Linked DNA regions of Homo sapiens. The protein of the gene in region 1 purifies or fractionates together with the protein of each later gene. This does not show direct contact. Each region holds a gene or a part of one and is shown in the gene's direction. Other genes may lie near its edges. The genes, in order: SPANXC and ZC3H11A.

What was found.
Region 2: the proteins of SPANXC (region 1) and ZC3H11A purify together in Homo sapiens (affinity purification with mass spectrometry; one large-scale study listed by BioGRID and IntAct). This does not show direct contact.

Annotation. Positions count from the first base shown.
Region 1 is NC_000023.11:141,240,930-141,244,279, reverse strand, and holds SPANXC (sperm protein associated with the nucleus on the X chromosome C), read left to right. Parts: upstream 1-1,762; 5' UTR 1,763-1,822; coding exon 1,823-1,894; intron 1,895-2,541; coding exon 2,542-2,763; 3' UTR 2,764-2,817; downstream 2,818-3,350.
Region 2 is NC_000001.11:203,851,001-203,854,824, forward strand, and holds the end of ZC3H11A (zinc finger CCCH domain-containing protein 11A), read left to right. Parts: intron 1-56; coding exon 57-124; intron 125-1,140; coding exon 1,141-1,399; 3' UTR 1,400-3,124; downstream 3,125-3,824. UniProt on the Homo sapiens protein: Through its association with TREX complex components, may participate in the export and post-transcriptional coordination of selected mRNA transcripts, including those required to maintain the metabolic processes in embryonic cells.

The DNA of each region.
Region 1 (3,350 bases):
AGGACTATCGTGGAACAGGTGGGCATGTGAGATTGTAAGGGCTGATATTAAGAGAAAAGTAGCTCAGTTTCTCTAGGAATTAACCATTAATATCAAAGGCACACTAAAGCAAAACCAGTATCTAGGTTGCTGTGTCAGTTTAACAAGGCTTTCTTGGAGCATTAACTCACTCCTTAATGCAAAATGATAAAGGTTACAAGGTTTATAGAAATTATATTTTATACTCAAGATGATTAAACTTTTATTATAAAATTTCAAAAAAACAAATTTCATTTGCCGCATCCTGTTTTTAATTAGGGCTTATTGTTTGGGATATTAAGCCTCCTCTCTCAAAGAATAAAGATTTTCACCTTTTTTTTTTCTTTTTTGAAATCTTTGAGTTACTGCTTTGGTTAAATGAATGACTTATTTTACAATGACCCATGACCCTATTTCGTGATATCAAGCATTTTAAACTTTTTATCTTTGACGAACTTTCCAAAGTCAAATTCTAACTTGATTCCTCATTAATTTTTTGATATGAGTCCTCTGAAGTCCAAAAGAGACATATTGGTCTTATTTGGTATAAAAATCATACAAGAAGCATCGTCAAATATAAAATGCTGTTTGACTTTCTTTGGGCTGTATTTATAGAAATGTCATTGATATGTGCTCCAAAATTATGGGAAACTCTTATACTTCTGAAATAACTTGTGTATGTTATTAATTATAACTTTTATGTTAAATTCTTGTATGCTACAGAAGTAACCAAAATTTACTTGTCAATGGTGGTTTTAATAATGGCTGTCCTGGCTGGGTGTGGTGGCTCACGCCTGTAATCCCAGCACTTTGGAGGCCAAGGCGGGTGGATCACGAGGTCAGGAGTTCAAGACCAGCTTGGCCAAGATGGTGAGACCCCCGTCTCTCCTAAAAATACAAAAATTAGCCGGGCGTGGTGGCACAGGCCTGTAATCCCAGCTACTCAGGAAGCTGAGCCAGAGAATCACTTAAACCCAGGAGGCAGAGGTTGCAGTGAGCTGAGATCATGCCATTGCACTCCAGCCTGGGCAACAACAGTGAAACTCCATTTCAAAAAGAGAAAAAAATATACACCCCTGATTTGAAACAAGACTAGGATACACGGTAAAGAATGTTTATTCACTAAAGTTTTGACAGACTGAAGGCCATTATTTCAGATTGGAGATAGGAAACTTAAAAGAACTACATGGACATTGGGTAAAAGAACATGGGTTGAAATTTGCCTGGCAGTAGCCCAAAAGTAAATGGTCTTCGAGGTGCATGTGAAGGAACTGTAGGAGGGAAATGGGATAATTCACATCTCTGCCAATAAATAAATGTAGCCACACTAGCTTGGGGGATTTGAGGTGAGACATCGAAAATACTAAGTCATGGTGAGGGCTGGAAGACAAAAGAATGAATCACTTAATAGGAATGGCTGTGGGGAAGGGCTTGAAGGAATCATCCTCTGACTTCCATGTGAACCGTGAACATTAAACATGGAGAAATGAGGAGCGGCGGCAGATCGGTTTGGGATGCATCTTCAGGGGATGCTGAAACAACAACAGCATTTGGTTTGCTCTACACCCCTGTCACCCCTCGCCCGCAAGCCCAGGGAGTGGTCAGCAGTGGGGCTTTGTGATGTGAAGCCACCCTAGGGCTGCCATTGGCTGGGACACTGCCTGTATGATCAAACAAAGCTCAAGGGTGTGGCTTTGCCTTGTCACCAGGAGGGTATATACAGGGAGGGCAAGAGCTCCGGGCCACTGCGAAGATTCAAAACCTACAAAAGCCTGCCGCTGACATTGAAGAACCAATATATACAATGGACAAACAATCCAGTGCCGGCGGGGTGAAGAGGAGCGTCCCCTGTGATTCCAACGAGGCCAACGAGATGGTAAGACTGTTAGGTTTTGAATTGAAGGCGAGGGTGAAAGAAAGACACACAGAGCGGGGGCGGCTCAAACAACAACACAGGAATATTGCAGACCATTGTGGAAGTGGGGGGCCCGCTTAATGCCAGAGCCCACCGCCGCTTACAGGCTGGGGTGCTTGTAGGTAGGGGTGGGAGGGGCCTGGGCAGTATGGCTTGCTGCCCGGCAGGATATTGATAAGATGTTCTTATGATCAGGTGGTTTGGCCCTTTTTCTGGTGGAATATCATTGTGGTGTTCCTTAGAACGCTGCCAAGCAAGATATGATAGGGATGTTTCTTCAGTTGGGCCTTTGTCCGCCTTGCGGACAGGTGGTTAGGCAGGATGTTTCTCACGGCCTGAACCCCCATGGGATGTTTCACTTTGACCAAGGTCTGCAAAATAGCAAAGAACTGACAAAATGGTGCAGTTTGGACTCACAGGTGACCCTACCCACGCTCCTCTTCTTCTTCCCCATAGATCCCTACTCTGTGCTTCAACCTTCTTCTTCTCTGGATCAAACCCCTTCCTCAACCCGCATTCCTTCTTCTCATGAAGCCCCCTTGCTATCCAGTCTCTATCCTGTTCACCCAAAATAATGTCCTCCTGGCCTCTCCCTGCTTTCTTAACAGATGCCGGAGACCTCGAGTGGGTACTCAGACCCGCAACCTGCTCCGAAAAAACTAAAAACATCTGAGTCCTCGACCATACTAGTGGTTCGCTACAGGAGGAACGTGAAAAGAACATCTCCAGAGGAACTGGTGAATGACCACGCCCGAGAGAACAGAATCAACCCCCTCCAAATGGAGGAGGAGGAATTCATGGAAATAATGGTTGAAATACCTGCAAAGTAGCAAGAAGCTACATCTCTCAACCTTGGGCAATGAAAATAAAGTTTGAGAAGCTGATGGCTGTGTATATCTCTGCCTGTTTTCTGATGGTGGCGGGGGAAGGGAAGGGAAGGGAAGAGGTAGGCATTTGAGAAGGGAGGGATATGAGGTCCTGTAGGGTTGGTGGACAGACCCACAGGTTGACAGTAAGCCAGACATTGTAAATAAGGCCTGGGGGAGGACTGATTCCTAAAGAAAATTTTCTTCTTAAAATTTTATCTCACAGGAAGTGGAGATGTGTATATGTTCACGCAACTGTACCCGGCAGCACATAGTTCTGCTGAATGTACATATCAAAGGTATTCCCATCCCCTTTCCATTTGATATTTTCCTAGGCTAGAAATAGATGCTTTATAAAGCGTAAATGTTCTGTAAAACACAAAGCACAATACAAAAGAAGATAGTAGATGTAGGAGTAAGTAAACGGCAGGAAAGCATTGCTTGTGATGAAATGATTGAAAAGCCAATTCTAAAACAAAATGTTCAATGCATCTTAAATATTTGTTAGTGTTTTAATGACCTCAGCAGTCTTTAATCAAGATAAGTATGCT
Region 2 (3,824 bases), on another chromosome or scaffold:
ATGCTCAAATTAAAAAGCCTGACTCTCACTGAATTACCTGACTCTTCCTTTTGTAGGCTGTTGTCCCGCTTGTCTCTGAGGACAAATCAGTCACTGTGCCTGAAGCAGAAAATCCTAGAGACAGGTAATACTTTGTAATTCTTTCTAAACAAACTCCAGGCCCCTGTTACTGTTTAGGCTCTCTAGAGAATAACACTGATAAATAACTTTAGCAACATTCAAATAAATCTGTTGCACTTCAAATTAATTGCAAGAAAGTATGAAAATCTAGGGTTGCTGTTCTTCTTTGGTGCCATTGTTTACATTTTGCTATATTACCTAAAAGATGTTTTTTTGTTTTTTTGTTTGAGGCAGCGTCTCACTGTGTCACCCAGACTGGAGTGCAGTGGCACAATCTCTGCTCACTGCAACCTCCACTTCCCGGGTTCAAGCAATTCTCCTGCCTCAGCTTCCCAAGTAGCTGGGATTACAGGTGCCTGCCACAAGGCCTAGCTAATTTTTGTATTTTTAGTAGTGACAGGGTTTTGCCACATTGTCCAGGGTGGTCTCAAACTCCTGACGTCAAGTGATCCACCTTCCTCGTCTTCCCAAAGTGCTGGGATTACAGGCATGAGCTACCATGCCCGGCCCCTGAAAGATGTCTTTAACACCTACTTTGAGTTATAAAAATGCTTGGTGCTGGCCAGGCAAGGCGGCTTATGCCTGTAATCCCAACATTTTGGGAGACTGGGGCTGGAGAATCACTTGAGCTCAGGAGTTCAAGACCAGCCTGGACAACATAGTGAGGTCTTGTCTCTAATAAAAATCAAAGAAATAAAAAAAAAATCACATGGTGACACACACCTGTAGACCCAGCTACTTGGGAGGCGGAGGCAAAATGATCGCTTGAGCCCAGGAGGTCGAGGCTGCAGTGAGCCATGATTGTACCACTACACTCCAGCCTGGGTGACAAAGGGAGACTCTGCCTCAAAAAAAAAAAAAAAAAAAAAAAAAAAGCTTGATCCCAAATCAGTAAAAGAATTATTTCTTTATGTATGTTCTTAAAAACAAATTTTTGCTCACTTTGTGTCCGTGAGACTAGGTGATTCAGCCAACTATTTTTAAAACGGCAGTTTTCTAATAATCTTTTTTTTCTTACAGTCTTGTGCTGCCTCCAACCCAGTCCTCTTCAGATTCCTCACCCCCGGAGGTGTCTGGCCCTTCCTCATCCCAAATGAGCATGAAAACTCGCCGACTCAGCTCTGCCTCAACAGGAAAGCCCCCACTCTCTGTGGAGGATGATTTTGAGAAACTAATATGGGAGATTTCAGGAGGCAAATTGGAAGCTGAGATTGACCTGGATCCTGGGAAAGATGAAGATGACCTTCTGCTTGAGCTATCAGAAATGATTGATAGCTGAAGGTGGTAGTGAGGACACTTTAAAAAAAAAATCGCCAAAAAACTGGACTTAGTTTCATCTATTGTAACATTTACCTGAGATGATCATTTCTTTAGTCTAGAATTTGCCCCAAATCAGAAGTATACCTCTGAATTATCTGTATGTGTCCTGGATTCCTTGGGGTCAGATTTTTAAAGTTACTTTATAACCATTTTGTCCATTTGATGCCATTGTTTATCATCTTTTGAGAAAAAAGTTCTGTCATACCCTTCTCTCCACAAAAAAGAGACTGAGAGGGAGATCAAGTGAAAGGGTGCAAGCGAACTTAGTGACTCCTTGAGGTGTTTGTCAGTTTTGGCTTTTTTCTTCTTTGTTGTATTCTTTATGTATTGTCTTGATGTACTTAATATTACCTGAGTTTGAAATGGATGAAGACAGCTGCTACCATTAAGGACCAAATTTTATGCTACCACTAAACAAAAATACCCACTCAGTCTGTGTTAAATTGTATGTCTTTTTAAAGGTATTTAAAGATTCAACTAAGCTTTAAAGAGGGCTGAGCAGCTCAGGAAGCCTGTAATGTGGGCATAACTCTTTGGACCTGATCTTGATGCTTCTGCTGCTCTGTTAGCCTCTGAAGAGCAATATCTAATTTATTATTACTGTAATTTTTTAAAAGGCTTTAAAGTGCCTCAGGGGTCCCCTGAAACTAATTTTCTATTTCTGGGATTCCCTGGATTCATTATATGAGATGGTGACATGATTAGAGGAATTCTTTTTTAGTATGAAAATTGTCCTTTTTCTTCTTCAGTACTTGCCTCCTTGCTGGCATTGAATTAACACAGGGACAAAATTTGGTTAATTTTTTATTTCTAACTCTCCCAACAAACCCCTGTTGCCCAGTATTTGTTTGGTGGCCTTTAACCACCTGAGGGAAAAAATGAGCTTATTCAAGCTGCCAATATTTATCTATGGGCTGTAGCAGTACACTGAATTGTACTGTGCCAGGGATATTGAGATGCTCTGGGGGTGTATTGTATACCTGCCAGTTTTCTTCATTTCTGAATTGAGTTTTCTTTTCTTGATGTTGGTTTCCTTCATATCACCTCAAGGTTTAGATTTGTGAAGGAATAAGCATGATGGAAATAATAGTCTTGAAAGGAGATATGTTGTATATAATCAGGAGGAAGAGGAAGGAAGGACTTACCCATTTTGATATTTTGCTGTAGGTGGCCAGTTTTGTTTCTCATAGGGAAATCTGACCCACCTGTCATGTTGGCTCCTAAGGAACTGCTGTTGTAAGCGGCTCATCAAGAGTTGAACTTCACGTAGCCTTGTTGGGAATATGGAAAAGGAAGAAAGCCACAGGACTGCCCATTCAGTCTTGGGAAGATTGGGATGATTCTGCACAAGCAAAAATGACTGAAGTTTATGTATAGACACACCTCTACCAATCCATCTTCAGCTGACTGAATGTTGTATGATAGCCCTTCTCCAAAGCAGAGGTAGAATGTTCAGGTTTCACCATGGATTTTCTACTTATTTCGTTTTTGGAATCAGCTTACAGATTCCAGGTCCCTTTTGTATATATTCTTTATTCTTTTGCTTTTTTAAAAAATAATTTTGTTTCATATTTAAAGCACTTGTATTAGTCAATGTTTCGTGTTCCGCATTATTTGAACCATTTGCCCTTACAGAAAGAGAAATACTTGTTTGTGTTTTAAATAAAACTGATGTAGGAAAGTCTTGATGTTGTGAGCTAAGTAATCTTACATCATCATATCAGCCTGGGATCCATCTTGACAAGAGACCCCAGACAGAATGCTATTGGCCTTTCGTGTAAGTGCCCGAATTTCAGTTATTATTTGGCTTAGAAACCTTTCATCTGGATATATTGCCAAATTTACAAGTGTGCTCAATTTTAGCTGCATATGCTTTAGGTAAGAATTTATATTATTATAATGTGAGGATTTTTTTTCTGACACGGATACTTACTCCTTAGTGTTGTAACTCAAGCAATGCCATTAAGTTTTTAAAAGGAGGGAGGGTTTAAAAGTGATCTTAGGGAGTCTCTCTGGGCCTACTCTGGCTCAAGAGGCTGATAAAAAATAAATAAATGAATAAACTTGATCTTTAGAGTCAACGATTTAGAATTTTCAAGCATGAAGGTGCAGCAGATAAGAAATTTAATTTATAGAAGTCCAGGTTTCTTAATATGTGTGCCAATTTTTAAAATTGTAGGAAAGTATATGTTTGTTAGCTACCAAAGAACATAGATTTTTCCTATTAGTCTAAAAGTCGTCCCAACAAGTTGAATCAACTTTTCACAAAAAGCAAAAGACTATAGTTTTGAATGATAGTTTTTCATTTTAACAGTAAGAAAAGGGCCCAAATATTCCAGTTTGGTTATAGCCAGAAATAAGATAGTTTTATGTTTCATATATTT